Homo sapiens: one gene and its partner. The protein of the gene in region 2 interacts with the protein of the main gene of each other region in a pairwise test. Each region holds a gene or a part of one and is shown on either strand. Other genes may lie near its edges.

Region 1 (15,486 bases), on a different chromosome or scaffold from region 2:
TAATAGGTACAGAATTTCAGTTTGGGATGACAAAAAATAAGTTATTGGCTGGTTGTGGTGACTCACGCATGTAATCCTAGCACTTTGGGAGGCTGGGAGTTCCAGACCAGCCTGGTCAACATGGTGAGACCCCATCTTATTAAAAAAGGGAAAAAAAAAAGTTCCGGAGATGGTTGCACAATAATGTGAATGCATTTAAAATCAATAAACTGTGGACTGAAACCGTGAAGATGATACGTTTTATGTCGTGCCTTTTACTACATACACACATGAAAAATCCAAACACTGTCGGTGGCTTACGGAGGTCTCACAATTTGGTCCCGCTAGCCTTTTAAAAAATTATTATTATTATTATTATTATTATTATTATTATTATTATTATTTGAGATGGAGTTTTGCTCTTGTCGCCCAGGCTGGAGTGCAATGGTGTGATCTCAGCTCACTGCAACCTCCGCCTCCGGGGTTCAAGCAATTCTTCTGCCTCAGCCTCCTGAGTAGCTGGGATTACAGGTGCCCACCACCATGCCTGGCTAATTTTTGTATTTTTAGTAGAGACGGGGTTTCTCCATGTTGGCCAGGCTGGTCCCAAACTCCTGACCTCAAGGGTTCTCTTGCCTCGGCCTCTCAAAGTGCTGGAATTAACAGGCATGAGCCATGGGCCCGGCTCCTTACACCCACTCCACCAGCACTCTTTCTGCTCCCTGGCTTACTTTGTTTAAGCCACACTGTCTTCTTTCTGCCTCATTAACAAGTCAAGCCTCAGGCCTCTGTGTTGGCTGCTCCCTTTGCAGGGAGTACTAAGAGTAGTCTTTCCTGGCTACTCCGGTGAAAAGAGCTCCCTAATTACTCACTCACTAACCCATTGCCCTGCATTCTTCTTTTTTTTCCCTCTAATTTAGTTAAGCTGGTGGAGTGTGCCAGACAGGGAGGGAACCCTGGCTGCTGACCTAGCCACTCAGGAATGAGGTCTGTGCCCTGGTTCTGACTCAGAGGTGGGGAAGAAAAAGCTCCCCAGCTCAGCACGCGGTCTCCTCCCCCATGGTATCAAATGCCCTTAGACTCACTCTCATAGGGCTACTACTGGGTGCCTGGAGTGGAGGTCAGAGAGCAGGGACATTGTATTTCGGCAGAGACACAGTCCTGTTTGTGTGTGTGTGTAATGAGAGCTGGTTAATCTGATCAAACAGTCAAACGTGTGGGAAATTTTATCCCACTGTGGACGGCAGAGATTTCTGACCATGGATCTGAGGGTTTTTTCCTCCTTTCCTCACTGAACTGAATGTTGCTTAAAGTATCTCTAGCGTCTGAAAGCCCTCTGGGTAGGGTTGTTTATCATAGGGTCCACAAATTCCCTGGAATTAAATGCAAAAATGTGGGTTTTGCATATTATTGTGGGCAGTGGTGCACTATTCTAGGGATTTTAACAGATTCTGAAAGGATGCCAGGACCCAGAAAAATAAGAATGACTAGCTTAGGTTTTTCAGGCAGGTGATTGTTTTGTTTTTGTTTTTGACACAGGGTGTCGCTCTGTCACCCATGCTGAATACAGTGGCATGATCAGGGCTCACTGCAACCTTGACCTCCTGAGTTCAGGTGACCCTCCCACCTCAGCCTCTCGAGTAGCTGGGACTACAGGCACATACCACCATGCCCAGCTAATTTTTTATTTTTTTGTAAAGACAGAGTCTTACTATGTTGCCCAGGATGGTCTTGAACTCCTGGGCTCAAGTGATTTTCCCACCTCAGCCTCCCAAAGTGCTGGGATTACAGGTGTGAGCCAGTGCGTCCTGACCATGCAGATGATTTAGAGATGCTGGAATTGGCCTTTGGAGAGAATTGGCTTTAGAAGAGAGTCCAGGGCAACAAGTCCAGGACAGACAGAGAGAAGGTGAACGTGTATATGGTGGCCTGCTAGGGGCGGGTGCTCTGGAGGGGATACTGGGGCTACTGCCAACTCTGCCCTACTGAACACAGGCTACTCTGCCTGTTAGATGCTGCCTATGCCAGCCTGGCATTATGTCACTTGTCTAGCTAGTCAGAGGAGTTGCCTACCTGGGCACTTGCAGCTCACAGAGTCACAAAGTTTAGGGTGAAAAGTTAACAGTTTAGAACCCCCACGTCCAAGGCTACGGGAGCCCACCTCTTGCATCAGCGTGACCTGGATGTGAGACACGAAGTCAAAGGAAATCACTTTGGAACTTTAAGGCTTAATGAATGCCCTGTTGGATTTTCGATTTGCATGGGGCCTGTAGCCCCTCTGTTTTGGCTAATTTCTCCCATTTCAAATGGTTGTATTTACGCAATGCCTATACCTCCATTGTATCTAGGAAGTGACTTAACTTGCTTTTGATTTTACAGGCTCATAGGGGAAGGGACTTGCCTTGTCTCAGATGGGAGTTTGGACTTGGACTTTTGGGTTAATGCTGGAATTAGCTAAGACTTTGGGGGGACTGTTGGAAAGGCATGATTGTGTTTTGAAATGTGAGGACATGAGATTTGGGAGGGGTTAGTGGTGAAATGATATGGTTTGGCTGTTTCCTCACCCAAATCTCATCTTGAGTCGTAGGTCCCATAATCCCCACATGTGATGGAAGGGACCCAGTGGGAGATAATTGAATCATGGGGCAGTTTCCACCATGCTATCCTTGTGATAGTAAGTTCTCACGAAATCTGATGGTTTTATGAGGGGCTTCCCCTTTTGCTCGGCTCTCATTCTTCTCTCTCCTGACACCTCATGAGGAAGGACATGTTTGCTTCCCCTTCTGCCATGATTATAGGTTTCCTGAGGTCTCCCCAGCCCTGCAGAACTGTGAGTTAATTAAACCTCTCTCCTTTATAAATGAGAATGGACTAATACACTCCAGTACAAGAGATTCAGGTGAAAGAGCTTCCGAAGGATGGGTAGCATAGGGTTAGGAGGAGAAAGATAACGAAAGAACCCAGTTTGAGAGGAAGGACCGCTAATATGCTTGCTTCCATTCCATACAACCTTTCCATTGCTACAAAGATTCCCTAGAGATCACTGCCAAGCTCCTCCCATCTCTGCCAAACTCTTCACCCTTCCCTTTCCAGAAGCCTAATCTATACATTCCTTGTCCACCAGACCCTGTCATTGCATCCCTGATACTTGCTTGCCTTGATTTATTTATTATTTTTTTTTAGAGACTGGGTCTCACTCTATTGCCTAGGCTGGAGTACAATGGTGCAGTCAAGGCTCACTGCAGTCTCAGCCTGCTGGGCTCAAGCAATCCTTCCACCTCAGCCCTCCAAGTAGCTGGAACCACAGGCACATGCCACCGTGCCCAGCTAACTTTTCTATTTTTTATAGAGATGGGGTCTTGTGACATTGCCCAGGCTGGTCTTGAACTCCTGGCCTCAAGCAATCCTCCTGCCACAGCCTCCCAAAGTTCTGGGATTACAGGCATGAGCTACTGTGCTTGGCCTATTTTACTTTATTTGTATCTTTTTTAGAGACAAGGTCTCACTCTGCCATCCATGCTGGAGTGCAATGGTGCAATCACAGCTCACTGCAGCCTCAATTTCCTGGGCTCAAGTGATCCTCCCACCTCAGCCTCCCAAGTAGCTGGGACCACAGGCAAATACCACCATGCCTGCTAATTTTTTATTTTTGTAGAGATGGGATTTTGATATGTTGCCCAGGCTGGTCTGGCCTTGCTTTATAAGTGCTGCCAAGTATCTGTCTTCCCTGGGAAGATGTGAGCTTCCTGAAGAAATGAACTCAACAGGGCTCACACTCAGCCCTTCCTTCCACAGCCCTAGTCCTCTTTTCAGCATCACCCCTAACCTAGAGGAAGGAGGGAGGCTGGGGGAGGACAAGGACAGGAAGCAGCTCTACTGGAGTGGCCCCAGCGCTTACACTGGGAAGTGTGGAGTCAGTTCCTGCCCTCACTATTGGGAGTTTGAGCACAGGAGGTCAATCTGGGAGAGCCCCAGACACCACATGCCTCCTACGAGGAGGGCTAAGCTTGTGGAGACTCTCAGCCTAAAGGTGTCTCAGTCCCACAGCCTTTCCTAGTTCAGGCCCCATCATCTCCTACTCTCAAGTGAGTGTAAGAACTTCCTCTCCAGACTGTGAGTCCTCTGCCTCTCTTCCTGCCGATTATCCTCCTCCAAAGCTGCCATCCTTCTGAAATGAAGTCACAGTACAGATGAAACACTTTCAACGACTCCTTCTTACTTTCTAAATAAATGCTTTTAGCATGACATGAATGTCAATTCAACATTTTTTTTTTTGAGACAGGGTCATGCTCTGGCTCAGCCTCCCGAGTAGCTGGGACTACAGGCACATGCCGTCATGCCAGGCTAATTTTTGTAATTTTTATAGAAAAAAGGTCTTGACATGTTGCCCAGGCTGTCTTGAACTCCTGGGCTCAAGTGATCCACCCGCCTCGGCCTCCCTAAGTGCTGGGATTACAGGGGTGAGCCACTGTCCCTGGCCAATTTAACATCTTTTAAGTCTCATTTCCTAAACAAACCTAAGCTTCAGCCACACCAGATCTCTTTAACAAACACATTCATGTCTTTAGGACTGTGCTTATGCCATTCTCTTGTGGGAATGCCCTTCATCCACTCTTCTCTCTTAGACACTCATCCTTTAAGGCCCAGCTCCAATCTGGCTTCCACTGCAGACCAGCCCTAGCCACGCCAGGCAGAAATGGCACCTCCTGGCTACATACTCCATGGTGCATTGTTCTCGTACCATGAATAAAATGGAATGCATGCTTGTGACACTCTTACTTGATGCCAGCCACTCTGTGGCACATGAATCTCATTTATGACCTATCTCATATCCCTCACCCACCATGTAAGGGACTCAACTGCTCTTTTTTTTTTTTTTTGAGATGGAGTCTCACTCTGTAGCCCAGGCTGGAGTGCAGTAACATGATCTCGGCTCACTGCAACCTCCGCCTCCTGGGTTCAAGCGATTCTCCTGCCTCAGCCTCCCGAGTAGTTGGGACTACAGGCATGCTCTGCCACGCCTGGCTAATTTTTGTATTTTTAGTAGATACGGGGTTTCACCATATTGGCCGGGCTGTCTCGAACTCCTGACCTTAAGCAATCTGCCTGCCTCGGCCTCCCAGAGTGCTAGGATTACAGGCGTGAGCCACCACGCCCAGTCCTTTTTTTTGTTTTGTTTTTTTGAGAAGGAGTCTCACTCTGTCTCTCAGGCAGAAAAGCAGTGGTGCCATCTTGGCTCACTGCAGCCTACGCCTCCCGGGTTCAGGTGATTCTTGTGCCTCAGCCTCCCGAGCAGCTGGGACTACAAGCGCGCACCACCACACCTGGCTAATTATTTTTTGTATTTTGGGTAGAGATGGGGTTTCACCATGTTGGCCAGGCTGGTCTCAAACTCCTGACCTCAAGTGATCTGTCCGCTTCAGCCTCCCAAAGTGCTGAAATTACAGGCTTGAGCCACTGTGCCCGGTCTGCCCCCATTTTTTGAAGAGGAAACAGGTTCAGGGAGGCCAAATGCTTGTCCAAGGTCACAGAGCTAGGAAGGGTCAGAGCTGGGATTTGAATTCCTAGGTGTTGGACTCTGCAGTCCATGCCCTTTCACACCTGTTACAGGTGCATCACTGCCACAGCACTGTGGCTAGTGTTGTAAGAGGCTTCTGGCCGGGCACGGTGGCTCATGCCTGTAATCCCAGCACTTTGGGAGGCTGGAGCAGGCAGATTACCTGAGTTCGGGAGTTCGAGACCAACCTGACCAACATGGAGAAACCCCATCTCTATTAAAAATACAAAATTAGCTGGGTGTGGTGGCACATGCCTGTAATCCCAGCTACTAGGGAGGCTGAGGCAGGAGAATCGCTTGAACCTGGGAGGCGGAGGTTGTGGTGAGCTGAGATCACACCATTGTACTCCAGCCTGGGCAACAAGAGCGAAACTCCATCTCAAAAAAAAAAAAAAAAAAAAGGCTTCTGACCTATGGGGGTTTTTAGTATTTTCAGGGCAGGGTCTGTCTCCTTTGTCATGGCATCCCCTCTGCCTGGGTCAGAGCCAGGCACACAGTACTCAGTAGATGTTTGTGGAATTGAAGGCTGGAAGTTTGGTGAGCAACCCCACTTACCTATCAACAGCTATGGCAAAAAGGGCTGGTTGGGGAGTCTTCAAGAGCAGAAGAGTGGCCCAGCGGGTAGGAAACAGAGGTGAAGGCCTGTCCCTACCCTCTGCCCTGTCTCTCCCAGCATTTCTGAGTTAGGGTTGGCCTTGGCAGCGTTCAGGGAGTCTTGAAGCCAGAGCTGAAAAGCTCTTGGAGCTCTTTGGCTGAGGTGTGAAGGAAGCATGGTCTACCTGCCCCTACCTGACTTCTTCCTGCTCCTGGCCTTTAAGATGAGCTGTGATGTCAGGCAACAGGCTCATGAGGTGGTGCCTGCTCCCTTGAAAGGAACTGCCCTCCTCCTTTGAGTGCCCAGGGGAGACCCCGGCCCCCTCCTCTGGGCCCCTCCAGCCTCACCCTCTGTGCTGGCATCATCCACCAGTATGATCTCCTTGAGCAAGATGGCAGGGGTGGTGTGTAGGACGCTGTACACTGTTCGCAGCAGTGTGGACCAGGCTTCGTTGTGGAACACAATGATCACGCTGGTGGTGGCCAGTGGGGGGCAGCGCCGGAACTTCTGGTCCACACACCTGGAAGTATGAAAGTACGGACAAAGTTCTCCTGGTCCCTGGGAGTACCAGGTGTGGGGAGGGCCCCATCCAGAGACTCCCCCAGACCATCCTCCACTCCTCTGAACCACAGCCTACATTCTCTATAGCAGGTGGGAACAGCTGTTCCCTGTTCCTGTCTTCCCCGGTATCTGCCACCCACCCTGAGCCTTTGCACAGGTTCTAGCCAAACCACTCCAAAATCCATCCCCACAGAGCTGGCTCAGTGCCCCAGCTGTGATGCTGAGGCTCCTCCACCCCCTTCCTTCATCTGCTATCTGCTCTCAGGCTAGGAGTTCCCAGGGCTGGCTCTCTTCCTCCGTAATATGTGAACTGCATAAAATGTAATCCAATCCAGAGGTCCCAGAGGGGTAGGTAATAAAGGCCAAATTTGACATCTGAGAAAAGTGACTATGATTTCCATACTCAATGAGAAGAAAAGGCTCTTCCCTTTACAGCGTACAGTTCCTCTCTAATCCATTTTCTCATTAACTCCCTGTGATTTGACACCACTATCACAGTCAATTTCCTGCAACCTTTCTTCCAACTTCATCCACTCCAGCTACTCTGTGGCACTTGGCCATGCTGCTACCTTCTTGACACTCTATCTCAGGGTTGGGGTGGGAATGTGTGAATCCTGGATCTCAAGGAATCATGTGACCTCACACCCTTTCCTTGACCTCCTCTGCTGGTCAGAGGATTTCTTGGGGACCCTCCAGAGAGATTCCCTGTCTTCCTCCTCTGGCTGCTGTCACACCCAGTGCTCTTCTCTCTGTCTGTTTTTTTTGAGACAGAGTCTTGCTCTGTCACTCAGGCTGGAGTGCAGTGGTATGATCTTAGCTCCCTGCAACCTCCACCTCCCAGGTTCAAGCGATTCTTGTCCTTCAGCCTTCTGAGTAGCTGGGATTACAGGCACCCACTACCATGCCGGGCTAATTTTTTTGTATTTTTAGTAGAGACAGGCTTTCACCATGTTGGCCAGGCTGGTCTTGAACTCCTGGCCTCAAGAGATCCACCCACCTCAGCCTTCCATAGTGCTGGGATTATAGGCATGAGCCACTGTGCCTGGCCCCAGTGCCCTTCTCTGCTGAGGAATTCCTGATAGCTTCAAGTGGCCCCTTGTTCTAGGGCTATCATACTTGGCTCAAGTCTCAAGAACCTCAGGTTCACAGCCCTAAAGACTCACGAAATCTGGGGATGAGGGCTGCCATTTGAGAAAAGGCCAAATAGGGTATAACACTTGACCTGGAAAAGACAAAGGCTAAGTGGGGAAGACACACTGTCTTTAACTTGAGGATCATGGGAATGCAGCCATGGGGGCGTTAGAGGGAGGGGGCTGCCACTCAAAGATCTAAGTGAGATCTCATTGTGCAAGATTGAGGCTATAAACAACTTCAGATAAAGGTTGGAATCAATTCCGGCCTTGTGGGCCTTCACTGGAGGAAACCAGGTGTGAGGATATTCCTAACCACCAGGGTTGCTGTTAAGAAATGCCCACCCCCCCCCCAAACAGCTCAGCATTAGAGTCCCACAGTCTCTGGAGCAGGCCTCAGTAGAGGAGAAAGCTACTGAAACCACAGCTTGGTATCAGGTCTCCCCAGTCACCCCGTGCCAGGTCCTGGTGCCAGGCTGAGTTCCTTCTTCCACATCATCTCACTTTCATAATTGCATTTCACTCTCACAGGTCTCCCTGGGCCTCTGGCCTGACCATAATACCCTTGAATCACAACCCCTGGGATCAGCACAGTTGTTCTGGGAAAGAAGTGAGGCATAGAGGAGATCCTTGCCCATATTATAAAATTCCCTTCAACTCTTTCTCTGGCCCTTGATCTATGGCCCTGGCCATACTAGCCATGCCTTTAGCAAAGCCCTGGTCTCCCCACAAGGACTCTGGGTGCTACTTACTCAGGTGGTCGGGTGTCTGGCCCCAGGGACCTCTGCAGGGAGATCCGGTCGCTGGCAAAGGCATTGAAACAGTGCTTCTTATAGCCTTCTTCCTTTTCCTGGGTCTCCAGGGGGGTCCACTTGCTCTTCTGAAATGCTTTTCCATCTGCCCCAGGGGCATTGGGGTCCTGTGGTGGCCGTTCCCAGAAGGGCTTCAGTTCAGCTGGGGTATAGAACCCAGGGAGGCAGGACTGGTTTATGGAGAACAGAGTCTGCTGGGCTTCTGGAGCCCTGATTTGGAGCTTGGGCATTGAATCTCTAAGGTTGTTCATGGCCTCCAGCATGAGGTCCAGGACGTGATCCTTCCGGCTCACCAGGGACTTCAGCCACGGCTTCTCTGTGGCCTCCTCTCTGCTGCTCACATCCCTATGCAGGAGGAAGAGGAAGAGCACAAAGGCGCAGCCCACCATGGCCAGGCGCAGGGGCATGTGGCGTCTGCGGAGGAGCCTCATCCTCCAGAACCAAGGGGCACCCCAGCTGCGTCAGCTCTGAGTCCTGAGCCCAACCCTGGAGATAGCTTGATACGTTGTGGTGGCCACAAGCTGGGGCCTCAGCCTGAGAAAGGAGGGGACAAGAGAGAGAAGTGAGCCAACACAGGGTAAGGAGGGAGTCGGGTGCTTGGGGTTCGAGGCCAGGCTCTGTTGCTGAGTGGTGGCATCACCTTATTGGCCACAACTTTCCCATATCTACATTTCCTTCATCCATAAAATGAGGAGACCGGAGGCAGTGTTTCTTTCCTGCCCTAAGATCCTAATATGCATGGATCTAGAGTCACTGGAACACTGAAACACTACATGAGATTTAATCATTAAACTCATGAGATTTAATCATTATGGCTTTGGGAAACAACTTGGTATTATCAAGAAAAATTTGAAATGAACACAGCCTGAGCCAGCAATTCCACTCCTCATTTTATATCCCAGACAAACTCTGGTAGATGCAAACCAAGAGGTATGTACAAGAACATTTAAGCCAACACTGACTTAAATGGCAACAAACTGGTAAAACCTTTAAGTCCACTAGCAGAATGAATAAATAAAGTGCAAAATACCCATACCGTGCAGTGCTCTACAGTGATGACCAAGAATGAACCACTTCTCCATGCAACAATGTGGATGTGTTGTTGGGTGAAAAAAGCAAGTGACAAAAGGATACATACAGTATGATTCCACTTATAGAAAATGTAAAAACATGCTAAAATTAAACAATATCTTGTTCTTGAATACAAATATGTGATAAAGCTATAAAGAAAGCTAAAGAAGACTAGCCTGGCCAACATGGTGAAACCCTGTCTCTACTAAAAATACAAAAATTAGCTGGGCGTGGTAGCGCATGCCTGTAATCCCAGCTACTTGGGAGGCTGAGGCAGGAGAGTCACTTGAACCCGGGAGGCAGAGGTTGCAGTAGGCTAGGATCATGCCACTGCACTCCAGCCTGGGCAACAGAGCAAGACTCCGTCTCCCCACGAAAAAAAGAAAGCTAAAGAAATGACATAACCAGTTTCTGAAGATGAAGAAAACGGTACAGGATTAGAGATGGTTAATGGGGGACTTCAAAGTGTTTTTTTCTCAAAGTGGATGGCGGCTGCTGGTGGACTGTAATTCTTTAGACCCTATACGTATTTTATAAATATTTCTTGGCCAAGCATGGTGTAATCCCAGCACTTTGGGAGGCTGAGGTGGGAGGATCGCTTGGGCCCAGGAGTTCAAGACCAGTCTGCTCAACGTATTGAGAGCCCATCTCAATAAAAAATTTTAAAAATTAGCGAGGCGTAGTGGTGCACACCTGTAGTCCTAGCTGCCTGGGAGGCTGAAGCAGGAGGACTGCTGGAGCCCAGGAGGTTAAGGCTGCAGTGAGCTATAATCGCACCATTGCTCTTCAGCATGGGCGAGAGAGAGATTCTGTCTTTAAAAATAAATAAATAAAAGTTATCTGTAATCTACTCCTATTTAATAAAAAAGAATTTAACAGAAACCTAAGATTTCATGACAAGACATTCCCGGCAGGGCTGGGCATGGGCGTTCACCAGGCTCCACCCCCAGGCATGTGGATCCATGCCCTAGAGGATGAATGCTTGCAGAACTTTCTGTGCAGAGTTCTGGACACATAAGCTCACTGGTTAAGCACTAGACATCAATGGCAAGGGACCTGGGCACAAATTCCAGTTCTTCCTCTTCTAGTAGTAGCACCTACCTCCTAGGGTTGTTACAAGGATTATGCTCCTTCCCCACAAAATTCATGGACAAAGCTTAGCAGTCTCTGCACATGGTAAGTTCCCACAAAGTGTTAGTTTTGATCATTAGCAGCTGTGTGACCCTTGGGTAATTTACTTAATCCCTCTAAGCCTCAATTTCCTCATCTATAAAGTGGGGGCAACTAATACCTAACTCACAGGGTTGTGGGGAGGATTAAATCAGATAATGTAGGTAAAATGTTTGGCAGAGCACCTGTCACACTAAGCCCTCAATAAATGGTATCAACTATTTCTATTATTATGATAAATCCCTGCTTCACTTCCCAGCAGTTATCCTCAAGCACCTGGCCCTTGGCCAAAGCCACGTTCATTACTCCCTGCATGTTTTGCTTAAAAATAACTCTGGTTGTACTATTTAATGCTATTGTTTAAACGCACAAGCTCCTGCCTGTGGAGAGGCCTGGTGTCTGAGACCTTGGGAGTATGTGGCCATCGTGATCTCAAGTGGGGAGGTGGATTCATTCTGGACTGGGGTACAAATGTGGCTTCTTTTATAACATCAGATTCAGCAGCACCGTCAAAAATCAAACAAAAGAAATCTCTTTGAGCATCTATTTTGTATTAACTATTGTCTAGGAGATAGGAGAGATTTGTTTATTCCACCAGTATTTACTGAATAACTGCCTCTACCAGGTACTCTGCAAGAGGCGGGGGACACAGAGAAGTGCAAGGCCAGCCCTCAAGGATCCTACAGTCAATTGGGGGCATCAGATTTTAAACAGAGATTACCCTGTGAGAAGCAGAATCAAAGAGGTACCCTTGAGTGCTGAAGGAGCCGGCATGCAGGAAACTCAGCAAATGGGGGAGGGCAACATCTGTGAAGAAATCTCACGGGGGCAGAAATGGGCCGAACACTAACTGGCGAGTAGGAGTCAGCGAGGCGAGGTGAGCACATTTCAGGCAGAAGGCACAGTACCTGCAATGGTCTAGAGGTGGGAGACAGAAGAGCCAGTCACAGAACTGTAAGCAGTCTGGTATGGCAGGAGTAGCAGAAATTGGGCCTACAGAGGTGGCTGAAACCAAGTCCTAAGGGCCTTGTTCATCATGCTGAGGAGCATTTGCCCTTGACCCAAGGCATGGGGAGTAATAAAGCGTTAAGCTGGGAGCCCAGCATTACAGGAAGAGCAATATGACAGCGGTGGAGGGTATCTTGGAAAGGGACCTGCTTGGCAGCTGGATGACCCATTCGGAGTCTGACCCAGGAGAGTTAGTAGCAGTGTGGATGGAAGAGGGAGGGTATGGTGCCTAGGAAGACCCCCTTGGGTGATGGGGTGGGACAGTTTACCCCGTCTGGTACACAGAGGGACACAAAGGCTCAATTCCTTTCCCCAAGGGATTTGAAAATCTTATTGGAGAACGAGAACTGATAGCACTGACCAGGTGAAGGAAGCACCTGACCAGGGGAGATTCAGGAGCAGGAAAAGGACCTTTCACTGAATACTCTTTTGTACTTTGAACCCTGACTATATTACTTATTCAAAAATGAATAAAATTAAAGCAGAATAGCACAGACAGTAAGAGCTAAGCTGAGAGAGGTAGAGTTCCCTGTGGGTTTGAGGAAGGCTTCGGGGAGGAAATGGGGATTCAGTGTAGCAGGAGTTTCTTGTCACAGAGGTTGAGCTATGCTGGGGCTAGCACAGGGGGATTTGCTTGAGCTAGACACCTCATCAGTTCTGGAACTGTCCCGGCTAAGCCCACACAGAGGCCTGCAGAATGGGGGAGTGTTTGCCATGACAGCTTTGAACCGTCCTGCAGGCTTCGTCTTCCCTGCTACTTTCCATCTACCTTCCCACTCCAGCAAGAAAGAGGGAGCACAGTTAGAAACAAAGGCATGGTAAGATTGTAGTTACTAACTGTTGCCAGTGCTCAAGACTCACCCCCTCCAGGAAGGCCTCCTGACTGATTCACTCAGAATCACCTAGGTTACTCCAACTCTTTCATCCTGGCACTGCCTCGTGGTCCCTCACAGCAGGGCCTGTTTTTGCTTCTTTTATTTTCCCTGGAGAAAGAAATATAGGGTTAAATTGAGCTCTTCCTAGGCATCTAATCTCTCAATCCCATCTGGCTGCCTGAAGCTTTCTCTCTCAAACCTACAGTTCCTCAAGGTACTAACCACATCCTGAACCGAAATGAGACACCTGGGATTAGCCTTGGTGGTGAGGCACTCATTCTCTAGTTTGTTTGCTTAGCATGAGGGCAACAGGAAGAGTCCCTTAGAAGAGACACAGAATCTAGTGCAAGCCACAGGACTTTGGGGTTAAGGATTTCTGCTCCCTGTGTAGGAGATGATTCCCAGAAGTATGGTTAGCAAGGTCGTGGAGGTCGCCCCTCCACCAGCCTTGGAGAAAGAATAGCTGCTATTCTTTGCTATTGTTTCAAGTACAAAGCTTCACGAGATCCGCCCCTGGTGTCTTGTATATCTCCCTCACCTTTGGGCTCCCACACCTGGCCTCCTGCTTTCCTGGCAAGTGTGCCCGCAGCCCCCATCCACTCATTTCCCTCTCGCTGTGGCTCAGCACTTCTTCCCAAGTCTTTTTCCTCCAGCTACCCTTGGGCCTGCAACTCTTTGGACCATCCTTGGCTTTGATCCCGAGATGATGCCAGAAATCCTCTCTGAAAAGCCTGCCTAGATTGAACAAATGGGATTTGCTTCCCTGGCCCCACCGGCCAGAACACAAACTTACCTTCTCTCACTGGTGTAAGGAACTGAGGCTTTACCCAGCCCAGCTTGTATCAAACTGCTGATTACAATCCACTGTGATATTATAAAATAAATTCAGAGTGTTGCAAATTAGCATTCAAAAATTTCTTTAAAAGACCAGTTAGGACCAGGCACAGTGGCTCACACCTGAAATCCCAGCACTTTGGGAGGCCATGGTGGGCAGATCACTTTAGGCCAGGAGTTCAAGACCAACCTGGCCAACATGGTGAAACCCCTTCTCTACTAAAAATACAAAAATTAGCCAGGCATGGTGGCATGTGCCTGTAATCCCAACTACTCAGGAGACAGAGGCAGGAGAGTTGATTGAACCTAGGAGCTGGAGGTTGCAGTAAGCAGAAATAGCACCACCGTACTCCAGCCTGGGTGACAGAGCAAGACTCTGTCTCAAAAAAAAAAAAAAAAAAAAGACCAATTAGCAAAAAGAGACCAGTTAGCTGGGTGTGGTGGCATAGGCCTGTAATCTCAGCTACTTGAGAGGCTGATGCTGGAGGATTGCTTGAGCCCAGGAGGTTGAGGCTGTAGTTAGTTATGATCATGCCACTGCACTACAACCTAGGCAATAGAGCGAGACCCTGTCTCAAAAAATAAAAATAAATAAATTTTAAAAACCCAGAATAGAATGAAAAGAAAATATCAAAGTGCATCATGTATCACATGTAACACAGGCAAGTATTCGTTTTTTCTTTCTTTCTTTTTTTTTGGAGACAGGGTCTCATTCTGTTCCTTAAGCTGGAGTGCAGTGGTGCAATCTCAGCTCACTGCAGCCTTGACCTCCTGGGCTCAAAGGATCCTCCTACCTCAGCCTCTGGAGTAGCTGGGACCATAGGTGTGTGTCATCAAGACCGGCTAATTTTTATTTTTTGGTAGAGATGGGGGTCTCACTATGCTGCCCAGGCTGGTCTTCAACTCCTAGGCCGAAGCAATCCTCCTGCCTTGACCTCCCAAAGTGCTGGGATTACAGGTGTGAGCCATCATGTCCAGCCTGAAAAGTAAACTTTTATTTTAATGTTTGTTTCAGTCTATTAAAGATACACACTGCCTGATACAAAATTAAAATGATAAATTTGTTATTCAAAATTCATACAACTAAAGACAAAAGAAGTTTAAATGATTCCATTTTCAAATGATAGTTTTTATGGTTTGCAGAATTTATGCTTGTAATGTGATTAAATTATAAAACTGCCCTAAGATTTTTGGGATGCCCTGTCACATATACACAGGTACCGGGTCTCGCTATAAAGTATATTTCTCACTTTGGTCAAGTCATAGAAGTTTGAAAGCCAGTGACACAGTCCAAACCCCACAGTTTATATTCTAGCCCCCCTCCAAAAAGCCTTCTCAGATCTCCCAGCAGAATTCATCTCTTCCCTGCTTTGCCCCCTTAGCACCCGATTTTTATTTGTACTCCAGTCTCATCACAGCCCACCCTGTGTTTATGGACTCCTGGACCAGAGAGGCCATGCCATTTCCAGCTTTTTATCACCTACAAAGTCTAGCACAAGTTTTACATATAGCAGGTGTTCCATAAACTTTTTTTTTTTCTCTTGGAGACAGGGTCTCACTCTGTCACCCAGGCTGAAGTGTAGTGGCATGAACACAGCTTTCTGCAGCCTCGACCTCCCAGGCTCAAACAATCCTCCTATCTCAGCCTCCTGAGTAGCTGGGAATACAGAGGTGCGTGCCATCAGGCCTGGCTAGTTCCACAAACTCTTGTTAAATGAGATGAGGTTGGAAGGGTTAAATGTGGAGCACTGGCTTCACTAAATGATGTTCTGAATGAACTTACTGCAAGAAATACTTGACTTACAGGATATTCTGCCATTACACATTAGCTTGCTGTTTTGACTAGGTCTGTCTGTGGGTCTAACACCCTCATTTTATCAACGGCGAGGCCAGA
Region 2 (15,486 bases):
AAATGTTTCAAGAATAACGTGGAGCCATTAATATTTTTACCTTTCTTTTATTTCCTCCTTTCCTTCCTCCAGTGCACTGACCCTGAGCTATAGCTCCTGTTTTTATTTACTACCTGAAACAGCTTCAACACGTCAAACTTGAGAAATCAAAACAAATGCATTCGTAGTTTTAGACCCTAAATAATGTTAAAGCCATAATCGGATTCAGAGGGCCTCCTGTGGTGTCACTGTAGTTCTGTTCCAAGCACTGTGAGCGTGGGGAGCATTATTCCATAGAGGCCTTTAACCATCTGATGCTTAAATTAACCACCATCTCTTTATTCCACAAAAATCCAGGCATAGCCCTTTATTCCTTGCACATAGTAGAGTCTGCCTAATGAGAGCTAAGACAAGGTCTCAAAAAATTTCCTTATTCTGATTTCTGTGGATCAGAATTGAACCAGGTATGAAAGAGTCTACATACGTGAAGTTATATAGTATTACAATAATGGCTATTTGTTTGGCAAACCATGTGAGAAATCATAAATTTTGAGGAGGTCAGGTTTTATCAAGAATTTTATTTTAGCTCTTATTGTAGGAAGTTCACCTAAGGACCATAATATCAAATTAGTAAGTACCATCATATTTTGAAAAATCGCATCCTGTATACATTCTAGAAGTTACATGGTTTTATATACGACCCTAAAGAATGTATTCCATCTGTATCTTAGTTGTTTCTTTTATTTTTTTAAATCAGGGAAGGAGCTGCTGTGTTTTGGAATGTGAAAGACAAAACTGTAAGTGTAAATAAAAATGTGAAAATATAAAAATTTAGTTTTGTGAGAATGAATTGTTAATTAGCACATACTGAAACATTAGAAGGGAAATTAATAGATTATGCACAACTTATTTGCTCTGCATTACATGATACTTATCAGTTTCATCTTCCAAAATATATTGTATTTTGGGTTAAGATTTCCTGCTTTTTCCTTTCTCTAGACACACACTAATTTGTGGAGAATCAGAACCATCCTAACTATACTGCAGACAGAAGTACTGTAGACTTTGCATGTTGTACTATACAAAATGTATGCAGTTAATTGGAAGCTGGTTGCATTGAGTGTTCTTTTAAGTCAAGTTGTCTAGAACTTACTACTCATGGGAAATAATTTTTTCAAGATCCAAATCAAGATTTGTTTAATACAACCATTTTAGAGGCAAATTGGTAATCTACATTAAAGCTTTATATTTAACCCAGTAATTTTACACCTAGAAATTTATCCAAAGGAAATAATCATAACTATTCGTGATGATTTTTGTACAAAAATGTTCATCAGAGCAATATTTATAATGGCAAAAATTAGAAATTACCAAAATACACAATAATAGTTTGTTAAATCATCCATATACTACAGATATACTATAGATCCCCTTAGAAATCATGTAAAAAAATATCTATTTCTGGGAGATTGCCTATATATATAATACAGTTACATTAAAAGAGCAGATTATACGGCCAGGCATGGTGGCTCACGCCTGTAATCCCAGCACTTTGGGAGACCAAGGCCGGCAGGTATCTTGAGGCCAGGAGTTCGAGACCAGCCTGGCCAACATGGTGAACCCCATGTCTACTAAAAATACAAAAATTAGCTGGGCGTGGTGGTGCACACCTGTAATCCCAGCTACTCGGGTAGCTGAGGCACAAGAATCGCTTAAACCTTGGAGGCAGAGGTTGCAGTGAGCCAAGGTCAGACCATTGCACTCCAGCCTGGGAGACAGAGGCATACTCTTGTCTTCAAAAAAAAAAAAAAGCGGGTTACAAAATATAACCAATATAATCTCAGAACTGGTTAAAAAACATGCTTTATACAATCCCAATTTTACGAAAAGGAAACACACACAGTAGGTGGTCGGGAAGGGAACTTAGAGAAAAGAAAATATAAATGACCAATAAATTTAAGAAAATACAAGTTGGCTATTTGAAGTTGCAAAGATGTAAAAGGCTGATAAACCCCATTTCTTAAGAGTAGTTTCATAAATGTTGAGATTCTACATTTGGAAAAACTACTTTGGAGAGCAGGCTAGCAATATTATAAGTGTGGGCCAGGTGTGGTAACTCATACCTGTAATCGTATCACTTTGGGAGTCTGGGGTGGGAGGATCACTTAAGCTCAGGAGTTCCAGACCAGCCTGAACAACACAGTGAGATCCCATCTCTACAAAAAGTTTTTAGAAGTTAGCCAGGTGTGGTAGTGTGTACCTGTAGTCCCAGCTACTTGGGAGGCTAAGGCAGGGGGATCGCTCGAACCCAGGAGTTTGAGGCTGCAATGAGCTATGATTGCATCACTGCACTCCAGCCTGGGTGACAAGGTGAGACCCTGTCTGTTACATATATACATATTGTGTAAGTCCACATATCTTTTGATCTAGCAATTCCTAAAGAAGTATTCCCACAAAGCCATGAAGACCTTTGCACAAGTGTGGCACATCGCAACATTGTAATGGAGAGTAGAAAAAATTCCCCATGGAGGACACACCTAGGTTGGTTAAATAAATTGCAGTTCGTCTGTAAAGGAAAATAGTGTTGAAAATGTCATGTGCATAATATGATCCTATTTTACATAAAAAGCAGCATAAATATGTACATATATACACATAAAAAGTCTGGAAGGATATGCACCAAGTTTAATCATGGTTGCCTCTGGGGATTAGGATTTCAGTACAGAAGAGAGAAAGAGATGATCACCTCCCACACCTGTGTGGCTTAATTTTTTATTAGTATGTTGGGCTTTACTTTTTATTTTTTATTTATTTATTTTTTTGAGATAGGGTCTTGCTCTGTCACACCGGCTGACATTGGCTCACTGCAACCGCCACCTCCCAGGCTCAAGCCAGCCTCTCAGGTAGCTGGGACTACAGGTGTACATCACCACACCCAGATAATTTTTGTATTTTTTTGTAGAGACAGGATTTTGCCACGTTGCCCAGGCTGGTCTTGAACTTTTGAGCTCAAGGATCCACCCGCCTCTGCCTCCCAAAATGCTGGGATTATTAAAGAGATTTAAAGAATACAAATTATAATATTACTAGTGATTTTCCTTGGGTTGTGGGATAATGATAACCTTGATTTTCTTCTCCATTCTCATCTGTGTTTTCCAAATGTAAAAACAAATGAACATGTCATCCTGATTACTTTAATATCACAATGGATTTGATTTGCCTTTTCCTTAAAAACATGCAACAGAAATAATGCCTGTAAGTGTAATGAAGACTGTTATAAGCATTAAAATCATAACATACTTGAACTGAGGGAGTCAGTTATGATTTCAGATTAATCTTCCTTTTCTTCTAGATGAAGCATGTGATGAAAGTTCTAGAAAAACATGAAATTCAGCCCTATGAAATCGCACTGGTACACTGGGAAAATGAAGAACTTAACTACATAAAAATAGAGTAAGCAACTTTTCATCAAATTTATGAAAGGGGCACTTGGAATAAATTAGGTAAAGCAATAGAGGAGACAAATTATTATGCATATGGAAACTTTTTTTTTTTTTTTGAGACGGAGTCTCACTCTGTCGCCCAGGATGGAGTGCAGTGGCACAATCTCGGCTCACTGCAACCTCTGCCTCCCGGGTTCAAGCAATTCTCCTGCCTCAGCCTCCTGAGTAAGTGGGACTACAGGTGTGCACCACCACGCCCAGCTAATTTTTTGTATTTTTAGTAGAGACAGGGTTTCACCATGTTGGCCAGGATGGTCTGGATCTCGACCTGGTGATCCGCCCACCTCAGCCTCTCAAAGTGCTGGGATTACAGGCGTGAGCCACTGGACCTGGCCTGGAAACTTACTTTTAAGAAAAAAGTGGCCAGGCGTGGTAGCTCACACCTGTAATCCCAGCACTTTGGGAGGCTGAGGCAGGTGGATTACCTGAGGTCAGGAGTTCAGGACCAGCCTGGCCAACATGGTGAAACCCCATCTCTACTAAAAAATACAAAAATTAGCTGGTTATGGTGGCGGGTGCTTGTAATCCCAGCTACTCGGGAGGCTGAGACAGGAGAATTGCTTGAACCTGGGAGGCGGAGGTTGCAGTGAGCCGAGATCACGCCATTGCACTCCAGCCAGGGTGACAAGAGTGAAACTCCGTCTCAAAAAAAAAGAGGAAAAAGATTACTGGTACAAATACAAAGTCTAAACCATATAATAAATATTAGAAGATAAACATAATTTTTTGAACTTCTCAGGCTATCCACAAGTTAAAACAAGTCAGTAGTATAGCCCCAAAATGGAAATGTTAAGTTTCTAATCAGCCTAATCCAATAAAATAGTATGCATTTATCAAATGAACCTATCAAATTATTCCAGTAAATTTTTCTCTTAATCCAGTTTTTTCCTATTGATTTTGGGGGGTGGGGGTATGAAAAGGAAGTATAGTGAGGGGTCAATCTAAGAGACCCACTTGTAGAAGTGTGGGTGCTGGAAGAAGTGGGACCTGGTGTACCAGTTTCACTAAGATAAATGGGTAGGCAACAGACTAGCTGATTTTCCTGACTCAGCCAGAGGGAAAAAATGAAGAGATGTTAGGGCCGAGACAGAGGCAGTATGAACAAGATGGTAGTGTCTTTTTCCTCATGGAGTTACCTGTCTAGTGAAATATGAGTCTTTGCAGGTTCTTAAGAAAGGTAGTGTTAGCCAGATTTGGTGGCTCACACCTGTAATCTCAGCACTTTGGGAGGCCAGGGTGGGAGGATCAACTGAGTCAGGAGTTCAAGACAGCTTGGCCAACATGGCGAAACCCCATCTCTACTAAAAATACAAAAATTACCCGGGCATAGTGGCGAGTGTCTGTGATCCCAGCTACTTGGGAGGCGGAGGCGGAGGCAGAGAATTGCTTGAACCTGGGAGGCAGAGGTTGCCATGACCTGAGATCGCACCACTGCACTCCAGCCTGTGCAACAGAGTGAGACTCTGTCTCAAAAAAAAAAAAAAAGCGTTAAAAGCAGAGCTTTGGGAAGACTTGGAAGAGAGACAGAGACTAGCTATAGAAAGACCAGATGGGGATAAGAGCTGAGTAATCAGCGCTCACCACCAATAGGGCCAGTCACGGTTTTCTAAGTAAGTGCCTTCCATGTATTATTTCATTTAATCCTGGGGAAAACCCTATAATTGCAGCTAACTGGCTTTCCGATGAGATTTATTGAATCCTGTCTTGCCAAAGGGCACCTGACTGTGAGTCAGCCTGAGCCCAGTGGTGGCTGCAGTCAGAGGTAAGGATATAAACCTGAGAGAGACAGCAAATGAGCAGCCTGTAGTTTTATTATCTTTAGTAGTTACTCAGCCCTTGGCCTGCAGATACAGCTCCTGTGAATCCCCTTTCTGTGTTCTATTAGGTTTACATTAAAATGGCAAAAACCGCGATTACTTTTGCACCAACCAAATACTTCCATATCCAACTACTGCTAGACCCTTGTGTGTGTGTGTGTGTACGCTTATCCACACACACACACACACGTTACTGTACAGTCTGTGAGGAGTAAAATCCTCAGTGCTTAGGATCCCAGAGTCAGTTATTTTGTTTCGTCAGAAAGACTGTCCTGGCTGCCACCTACATGGTTATTATGTGAGTTCTGCCATGATTCCAGGGATCTGCTCAGCTCTGTGGCATGGGCCCAGTTTACTCATAAAGCATCTTGTGACCAAGCACAGTGGCTCATGCCTGTAATCCCAACACTTTGAGAGGCCAAGGCGGGCAGATCACTTGAGGTCAGGAGTTCAAGACCAGCCTGGCCAACATGGTGAAGCCCTGTCTGTACTACAAATATAAAAATTAGCTGGATGTGGTGGTGCACTCCTGTAATCCCAGCTACTCAGGAGGCTGAGGCAGGAGAATCGCTGGAACCCAGGAGGCGGAGGTTGCAGTGAGCGAAGATCACGCCACTACACTCCAGTCTGGGTGACAGAGCAAGACTCCGTCTCAAAAAAAAAGACCTCTTGTGACTGCTGTCTTTGCTTTCCTTCCTCCATCTGAGGCTGTCATAGCAGATGCCGCCCTCCATCAGGCCCCTTGTCCCCCTCCCTTTGGCCGTCACTTCTTGTCTGACATCTTTTGTGAAGGTTTACCCTGTCTTTTTTCCATTTGCTTGTGATGTTTATATTCACACATTCCGCTCTTCCCCTGTCCCCTGTCTAGGATTCTCCACAGTCACATACTCATTTTTCACAACTTCCTTGCCTCCCTCCCCAACCCCATCATGTCAGTGTGATTTTAGATTACACTCCATATATAGTTTTATATGCAGCATTTTTTCACATAGAAATTTACTGTGAACGTTCTCCTTTTTATTAACTATCCTTCCAAAACACACTTTTAAGTTTTTCTTGTGTGGAGTGACTATTACTGAGCCAACCCCTACTGAACATTTGGTTTATTTCCTAATTTTTTACTCTTAAACACTGACCTTTTTTTTTTTTTTGGAGACAGAGTCTTGCTCAGTCTCCCAGGCTGGAGTGCAGTGGCGTGATTTCGGCTTACTGCAAGCTCCGCCTCCCGGGTTCACTCCATTCTCCTGCCTCAGCCTCCCGAGTAGCTGGGACTACAGGCGCCCGCCACCACACCCGGCTAATTTTATTTTGTGTTTTGAGTAGAGACGGGGTTTCACCATGTTAGCCAGGATGGTCTCAATCTCCTGACCTCGTGATCCACCTGCCTCGGCCTCCCGGAGTGCTGGGGTTACAGGCGTGAGCCACCGTGCCCAGCCAACACTGACCATTTTTTTAAAAGTTTTCAGCTGGGCAAGGTGGCTCGCACCTGTAGTCGCACCACTTTGGGAGGCCGAGGTGGGTGGATCATTTGAGGTCAGGAATTCAAGACCAGCCTGGCCAACATGGTGAAACTCTATCTCTATTAAAAATACAAAAAAAATTAGCTGGGTGTGGTTACGCATGCCTGTAATCCCAGCTACTAGGGAGGCTGAGGCAGGAGAATCGCTTGAACCTAGGAGACTGAGGTTGCAGTGAGCTGAGATCGCACCACTGCACTCTAGCCTGGGCGGCAGAGTGAGACTGTCTCAAAAAAAAAAAAAAAAGTTTTCTTGTATACAAATTTTTCTTTGCATCTTAGATTATTTCCTTAGGATAAACTCCTAGAAAGGGAATTACCTGGACCAAAGGATATGAGAACATTTGTAACACTCTTGATACAAATTGTCAAAATGACCTCCAGAAAGATGATATGGTGTCTTTTTCAAAGGAAAAGTTAAAGTGCTTTTTAAGATTTAGAAGGTATTATCTTTTTGCTTTTCACAGGGGACAGTCAAAACTTCACAGGGGGGAAATCAAGTTAAATTCAGAGCTGGATTTAGATGATGCCATTCTAGAGAAGTTTGCTTTCTCCAATGCTCTATGCCTTTCTGGTAAGTTACTACTGCTTATGGGATAGGGTACTACAGTTGTCATTTCACTGAGGGAAGTTTAAATAGTCACGATTTTGGTATATTTTCAGAATACTCAACAAAGCCTTAGCATTCCTTTTCCTTTTTTTCCCTCCATCAGAAAAAATATCTAGTATAAAAGATAGTACTGTGCTGAAGTTACTCATTCCTTATTAATTGTATTAATAAAGCTTAACCTCTCCAAAAGTATTTTTTAGATGATGATTATATTAGCCTTTGTTTTTTTCTCTTCTCTCTATGCGATTGTTATTCTTAGATAGTCTCTAATCCAGACAGAGAAGCCCAGCCTTGTGTGACTGGGCACAGGTCCCAGTGTAGAAAAACATACTCTAGTGTTCCATAGGAATGGGACCCAGAGTCACAGTGGCTATAAGTTTGTTCTGAAAGATCCACATCCCGAATAAAACTATACAAGTTCTTTAAGAATTTCTTTTGCCAGCAGTCTACCTTAGGTGGCTGCTGCAGCGTCCTGTCCATCCCACTCTGAGGGGCTTCGGAGATTTCTGAGGTTTACTCTTAGTCCTGAGGAGTGAAGGGGAGGCCAGGAAAGTCTTAGTCGCGCCCTATCTGCAGAGCTACCCATGGTATCAAGGTGTACCCTACCCTCCTCAGTTTCCAAGATGTAATACTAGAAAATCAAGAGTTCTACTAAATGTAGCTTTGGTCTTCCAATAGGGCATGGAAAGCGATTCAGTTTCCTCTATCCACTTTAATTCTGTCCTTTATGATAATTAACTATTCTTAAATTATATTTTCAAGGTTTTAGTACTTTTTCTTAAACTATTACTGAAATAGTAGTGAAGATGCTGTGCAATTATGTATTTTATATACATGTGAATATGATGATAAAGAAATGTTCCATTATTAATTTTTTTCCCAGTAAAACTGGCAATTTGGGAAGCATCACTGGATAAATTTATTGAATCTATTCAGTCAATTCCTGAGGTAATTATATCAATTTTATGCTTATTCAAGGATTGATTTTTATATGTAAAAAATATGAATTTCCCAATATAACAATATATAGCTATCCATCAGTATCCATGGGAGATTTGTTCCAAGACCCCACTGGATACCAGAATCTACCAGTGTCCAAATCCCTGATATAAAATGGTATATATTTGCATATAACCTATGCATATCCTCATGTATACTTTCAACCATCTCTAGATTACCTAAAATACCTAATATAATGTAAATACTATGTAAATAGTTGTTATACTGTATTATTTAGGAAATAATAACAAGAAAAAACAGTTTGTACATGTTCGGTACAGATGCAACCATTCTTTTTTCTCAAAATACTGTCAATTTGCAGTTGGTTGAATCTGCAGTTGCAGAACTTATAGAGGGCCGATTGTTTAGGAGTACAACAACATTATTACAAACAATAAGAAAACTACAGTAAACTTAAGAACTCCCAGTTACATATAAAATGACAAATTAAGAAACTTCATATTGATTACTTTTTACTTTTTAAAACTTCAAATTGTTTCCTCTGTTGGTGCAGTATTTTTTTTTTAATATTAATATAATTGAAATGGGGTCTGGCCATGTTGCCCAGGCTGGTCTTGAACTCCTGGGCTCAAGCGATCCTCCTGCCTCGGCCTCCCAAAGTTCTAGCATTACAGGCCACGAGCCACCATGCCCGTCAGTTGCAGTATTTTTAATGTAACTGAATTAAAGAAAAAAGTGAAATGTTTCTCTCTGAGAATGGAAATTATGACCACTTTTCCTGATTTAAGAAAGTGTTTTGCTAAATTATGAGAAAAATAGTGGTATGAAAAATACATATAAAGTTATATTGAAATTTCAGTATACATTAAAAATCATCATATTGTAATTAACTGTGTCTTTATTGTGAAAGAGTAATCTAATTATACTTCGGAAAGGAGGCCCTGCTTTTCTACTAAGAGATTAGGAATGTATATATCATTGAAAATGCTGATGAGAAGGGAAATGAAAAAAGAGAATATACAATTTCTACCTAATAAAATTATGAAATTTCAAGGTGAGTTAAGACATTAATCTGGGAGACAGCCATCCTAAAAAATATTTACATAGGATCCAAATTATGCCACTTCAGATTTTGCCCTGTTGACCTAATGCTTATTAGAAAGAGAGATACATGGTTTTTTGGTTTTTCCGATTCCCTCTCAACTAGGCTTTAAAAGCTGGGAAGAAAGTGAAACTATCTCATGAAGAAGTTATGCAGAAAATCGGTGAACTCTTTGCTCTAAGGTAAAAGTTTTCTCTCTAAATAAAATATTTCATATATTTAACAATCTCAAGAAAACATTCCCATAGTTCTGTGGTGAAGAGCAAACATTTACACGTTTATGGGAACTGTAGCTGTTTTCATTTCATTGATTATAAGCAGGGAGAACTCTTACCCATTAGAAGTAGTTGGGCTGTGTTAAGACTGTACTGAAAGAAATCACGCATGTGCAAAAGAGATCACGATTCATCTACATTAAACCCACATTAAGGAGCACAGTAGGTGTTCTTTGAAGGTAGAAAGACATATTCCTGAATTTGGTTAATGGGAATTCTCTGTAAAAATATATCACTGCATCATAATGCTAAATAGGCTTAATTGCTACAGAAAAGTTTCTTTGAATCTGAGACACCAAGATGCCACTGGAGAGAAAAACTGCTGCCAGTTAAACTATGACAATACTTTTTTTATCAGAGGATTAAAATTTTACACTTACTGAAATATCTTTTAATCTTAGCTGGATATAAATTATATCACATTCCCTCTTGGGCATATATGAAAAGGAAAGCATAAGAAAATAAATTATTTAAGGCAAAGACAAGTAAGTCTCAAGTGCCACCTGTCAGACACCATTAATTTTAAGATGCCTCGAGATGTTAAAATGGGAATAACTATGTCTAAAAACTGATGAATCATTTTAAATAAGTATCTGGAAAGGTTTTCAGCTTTTATTATTCTTGTAGTTGTCCCAGGATTTACGGAATGAAACATCCCGGATGTTGGTGTTTTTCTCACAGGCAGCATTGTCCAGTTTATCCCTTCTAGCATGTGGAATGAGTTACCAGAGCTCACTGCAAATGTTCACCTAAGACTTGTTTTTCCATATTCTCCTTAGATGCTCTGCCTGGAGAGAAGTGATACAGTGTTTCATTGTCTGTGTATCTCTCATAGCTCAGGACCTATAGTTCAGGGTACCAACAAAACTTAAAAACCCATCCATCAGGAGCATCCTGCAGCATATCTGAAGCCTCAAATTCTCTGAGAAGTAGGGTAGAGAGATTCTTCTCTCCTGTTCTCTTGGTCATGCAAGCAGAAATTGATGTAGTGAATTATAATATCCAAACTGAATAGTTAGGACTAAATATACGTAGGTTTGTGAATAGTTTCTATAAAGGCTTACTTTTACTATCCTGTTTCCTTACCTGTACAATAAAAATGCTTATTTGTTAATATAAGGAATGTGATACATCTGTGAAAATAAACATGGCAGATAATATTAGATTAAAAAACTAAATCTAAATTTATATAGGGTATGATCCCATTTGTGTAAGCAAATAAAAATATTCATGTTTATCTTTATATGCATACACATGTACATGTGTTTGCTTGCACACACATGCATGTATGAATACAGAAAGATCTGGAAGTACACAGCAAAGTGTCTCTACAGGCCTGTCCTTGGGGAGAATAAAGGATTTAAGTAGTGTGGTAGCATAAGAGAGCCTACCATTTTTCTGAATCCTTCTCTAGGATATTTTCCTTTTTTTTTTAATCGTGAACAGGTATGTATGTGTTACTTTTTTTTTTTTTTTTTTTAAACAGGGTCTTGCTTGTCACCCAGACTAGAGTGCAGTGGCATGATCATAGCTCACCAAAGCCTTGATCTCCTGGGCTCAGGGATTCCTCCTGCCTCACCCTCCTGGGTAGCTGGGACCACAGGAGTGCTCCACCACACCCAGCTAATTTTAAAAATAATTTGTAGAGACAGGGTCTCAAACCCTTGCTCAAGCAATCCTCCTCCCTAGGCCTCCCAAAGTGCTGGGATTACAGGTGTGAGCCACCACATCAGTTTATGTGTACTTTCATAACTTAGATTTTTATTTAGTTAAACATCTAAGTGTAAGGCCAGGCACGGTGGCTCACACCTGTAATGCCAGCACTTTGGGAGGCTGAGACAGGTGGATTGCTTGAGGCTGGGAGCTCGAGACCAGCCTGGCTAACATGATGAAACCCCATCTCTACCAAAAATACAAAAATTAGCCAGGAATGGTGGTGTGCGCCTGTAATCCCAGCTTCTTGGGAGGCTGAGGCATGAGAATTGGTTGAACCCAGGAGGCGAAGGTTGCAGTGGAGCCAGGATCATGCCACTGCACTCCAGCCTGGGCGACAGAGCAAGATTCTGTCTCAAAAAAGAAAAAGGCTGGGCACGGTGGCTCACATCTGTAATCCCAACACTTTGGGAGGCCGAGGCCAGTGGATCATCTGAGGTCAGGAGTTCAAGACCAGCCTGACCAACATGGAGAAACCCCATCTTTACTAAAAATACAAAATTAGCCGGGCGTGGTGGCACATGCCTGTAATCCTAGCTACTCGGGAGGCTGAGGCAGGAGAATTGCTTGAACCCAAGAGGTGGAGGTTGTGGTGAGCCAAGATCGCGCCAATACACTCCAGCCTGGGCAACAAGAACAAAACTCTGTCTCAGAAAAAAAAGTAAGCACAGACTTCTTATATTAAAATGTAGAAATTAAGAGAGAGAGTGTGTATGTTTATGCTTGCTTGTCTAGTGTTTGCATAAACACTGGAAGGATACAGCGGAAACTAGAAGGGATTACTGATAGGGAAAGATACAGATAAGAATAAGAGTTAAGATTTATCAATTTTTACCTGTTTATATCTTGATCTGCTCAGGAGGCTGAGGCAGGAAGATCACTTGAGCCCAGGAGTTTGAGGCTGCGGTAAGCTATGATTGTGTCACTGCACCCCAAACTGGGTGACATATGAAGACATTATCTCTAAAAAAATTTTTTAAATAAAAAACAAAAAAGTGTGGACATATTAAATTTTTTTTTTATTTGAGATGGGGTCTCACTATGTTGCCTAGGCTGGAGTACAGTGTCACAGTCTTGGCTCACTGCAGCCTCTGCCTCCGAGGTTCACATGATCCTCCCACCTCAGCCTCCCAAGTAGCTGGGACTACAGGCATACACCACCACACCTGGCTAGTTCTTGTATTTTTTGTAGAGATAGGGTTTCGCTGTGCTGTCCAGGTTGGTCTTGAACTCACAGACTCGAGCAATCTGCCCGCCTTGGCCTTCCAAAGTGCTGGGATTACAGGCATGAACCACCATGCCTGGCCCTAAAATTTTTAATAAAAAAAGTTTAGGCTGGGAATGGTGGCTCACACCTGTAATCCCAGCACTTTGGGAGGCTGAGGTAGGCAGATCACGTGAGGTCAGGAGTTCGAGACCAGCCTGGCCAACTTGGTAAAACCCTTTACTAAAAATACAAAAAATTAGCCAGGTGTGATGGTAGGCACCTGTAATCCCAGCTACTTGGGAGGCTGAGGCAGGAGAATTGCTTAAATCTGGGAGGCAGAGGTTGCAGTGAGCTGAGATCATGCCATTGTACTCCAGCCTGGGTGACAAGAGTGACTCTGTCTCAAAAAAAAAAAAAAAATTGAAAACAAAATGAGTTTTTTTCTGTGTACTTCATAAATAATGTTGGTATTAAAGATTGAATTAATTTGGTTCAGAAGTTTGAAACTCATTTGTAAATTTTATTTACATGTTTGTTGGCAGTATTTTGCAAAGGTCAGCATTAACAAATGTTTTCAGCCACATGCAATGCCACATGCCTGTAGTTCCAGCTACATGGGAGGCTGAGGCAGGAGAACAGCTTGAGCCCAGGAGTTCAGTTTGCAGTGAGTTGTGATCACACCACTGCACTCCATCCCGGGTAACATAGCAAGACCCTCTCTCTTACCAAAAAAAAAAAAGTTTTCATAAAGCACTATGTAAATATTAAATACAATAGAAACAATGATTTTTAATTCAAGATAAATAAAAAGTTATAATTTTCCTTTTTAAAGGCACCGTATAAACTTGAGTTCAGACTTCCTGATTACTCCTGATTTCTACTGGGACAGAGAAAACCTGGAAGGACTTTACGATAAAACGTGTCAATTCCTTAGCATTGGCCGAAGAGTTAAGGTACGTATTTTGCACTTCTAATGAGAGAAAAAGACACGTTGTCGCCTATAAGTTGAATATGTTTAACTGCTTGCAGAGAAATATCTTGTTTGACTTCCATTCAAATCTCTTTATATTTCCCCTTCTTGTCCTCTGTACAGTCACTTCAATTTTTTGTGTCAAAGGATCTTCTGATATTAGCTCTACAGACTAGATAAGGTTGGTGAATAAGATGAGAGTTTGGAAGCCTAATGGTCCATCAGTAAGTTCTTGTCAAGTTTCAAGCAAGAGTTCATGACTGCTTCTGATCTGTCATGGTGACAGTGAGAATAGAAATAAATTTAAGAAAGAATCATGTAAGACAAATCAAGTGATGGGTAATAAGAGGCCATGGAGAAGAAAGAATAAAGGATGACTGATGTTTGCCTGGAGGTGACAAGTAGAAAGGTGGAAAAACAATAATGAGAGGTCAGAGAGGGGAGGTGACAGACTAAATCTAAGATATGCTGAGATTAGAGTAGCAACAAGATATCCAATTAGCTCCGTCATGCAGGCATTTAGAAGGGCAGAAGCAAAGTCGGGAAAAGAGACGTGTATTAAGAAATCCCAGCACTTTGGGAGGCTGAGGCGGATGGATCACCTGAGGTTGGGAGTTTGAGACCAGCCTGGCCAACATGGCGAAACCCTGTCTCTACTAAAAATACAAAAATTAGCCAGGCATGGTGGCATTCTCCTATAGTCCGAGCTACTCGAGAGGCTGAGGCAGGAGAATCACTTGAACCCAGGAGGTGGAGGTTGCAGTGAGCCAAGGTCGAGCCAGTGCACTCCAGCCTGGATGACAGAGTGAGACTCCGTCTCAAAAAAAAAAAAAAAAAAAAAGCTGTAGTGATGGAGGTAGACCACATGGGGAAAGAGCATAGAAAACAGAAAATTGACATTAGTACAATGTGTGCACATAGTTCTGTGACATTTTGCCACATCTATAGATCCATGCAACCACATGATCAAGACACAAAACTGTGCCAGGTGCGGTGGCTCATGCCTGTAACCCCAGCACTTTGTGAGGCTAGAGGTGGGCAGATCACTTGAGGTCAAGAGTTCGAGACCTGCCTGGCCAATATGGTAAAACGCTGTCTCTACTAAAAATACAAAAATTAGCTGGGTGTGGTGGCGCGTGCCTGTAGTCCCAGCTACTCGGGAGGCTGAGGCAGCAGAATCGCTTGAACCCAGGAAGTGGAGGTTGCAGTGAGCTGAGGTCATGCCATTGCACTCCAGCCTGGGCGTTGCAGCGAGACTCCATCTCAAAAAAAACAAAACAAAAAGACACAAAACTGTTTTATCACTTTTCCTCATGCTACCCTGTATAGTCACACTGCCCTCCCCCTACCCGGACTGTCCCTAACCCCTGGCAGTGAGTAATCTCTTCTCCATCTCCATAATTTTGTCATTTTGAGGATGTTATATAGATAGTCATACAGTATGTGACTTTTTTTTTTTTTTTTTTTTTGAGACGGAGTCTTGCTCTGTTGCCCAGGCTGGAGTGCAGTGGCTCAATCTTGGCTCATTGCAAGCTCTGCCTCCCGGGTTCACGCCATTCTCCTGCCTCAGCCTCCTGAGTAGGTGGGACTACAGGCACCCGCCACCAAGCCCAGCTAATTTTTTTTTGTATTTTTAGTAGAGATGGGGTTTCACTGTGTTTAGCCAGGATGGTCTCGATCTGTATGTGACTTTTTAACTGGCTTTTTTCACAGAGCATAATGCCCTCAACTTGGATCCATCCAAATTGTTGCTTGTATCAAAGTTCCTGTCTTCCTGTGGTTACTGAAACAATTTTTTGGTATTTCATTTTGATGTTACTTTTTAATATATCTC

The links.
Region 1: the proteins of RMND1 (region 2) and GALNT6 interact in binary tests that used the Homo sapiens proteins (3 or more experiments, as listed by UniProt).

What each region holds. Positions count from the first base shown.
Region 1 is NC_000012.12:51,370,717-51,386,202, forward strand, and holds part of GALNT6 (polypeptide N-acetylgalactosaminyltransferase 6), read right to left. Parts: intron 12,867-15,486; exon of another isoform or gene 12,745-12,866; intron 11,794-12,744; exon of another isoform or gene 11,597-11,793; intron 9,169-11,596; 5' UTR 9,066-9,168; coding exon 8,575-9,065; intron 6,652-8,574; coding exon 6,479-6,651; intron 1-6,478. UniProt on the Homo sapiens protein: Catalyzes the initial reaction in O-linked oligosaccharide biosynthesis, the transfer of an N-acetyl-D-galactosamine residue to a serine or threonine residue on the protein receptor. May participate in synthesis of oncofetal fibronectin.
Region 2 is NC_000006.12:151,415,428-151,430,913, reverse strand, and holds part of RMND1 (required for meiotic nuclear division protein 1 homolog), read left to right. Parts: intron 1-736; coding exon 737-776; intron 777-3,331; coding exon 3,332-3,432; intron 3,433-7,282; coding exon 7,283-7,389; intron 7,390-8,308; coding exon 8,309-8,373; intron 8,374-9,592; coding exon 9,593-9,669; intron 9,670-13,514; coding exon 13,515-13,635; intron 13,636-13,642; exon of another isoform or gene 13,643-13,833; intron 13,834-15,365; exon of another isoform or gene 15,366-15,486. UniProt on the Homo sapiens protein: Required for mitochondrial translation, possibly by coordinating the assembly or maintenance of the mitochondrial ribosome.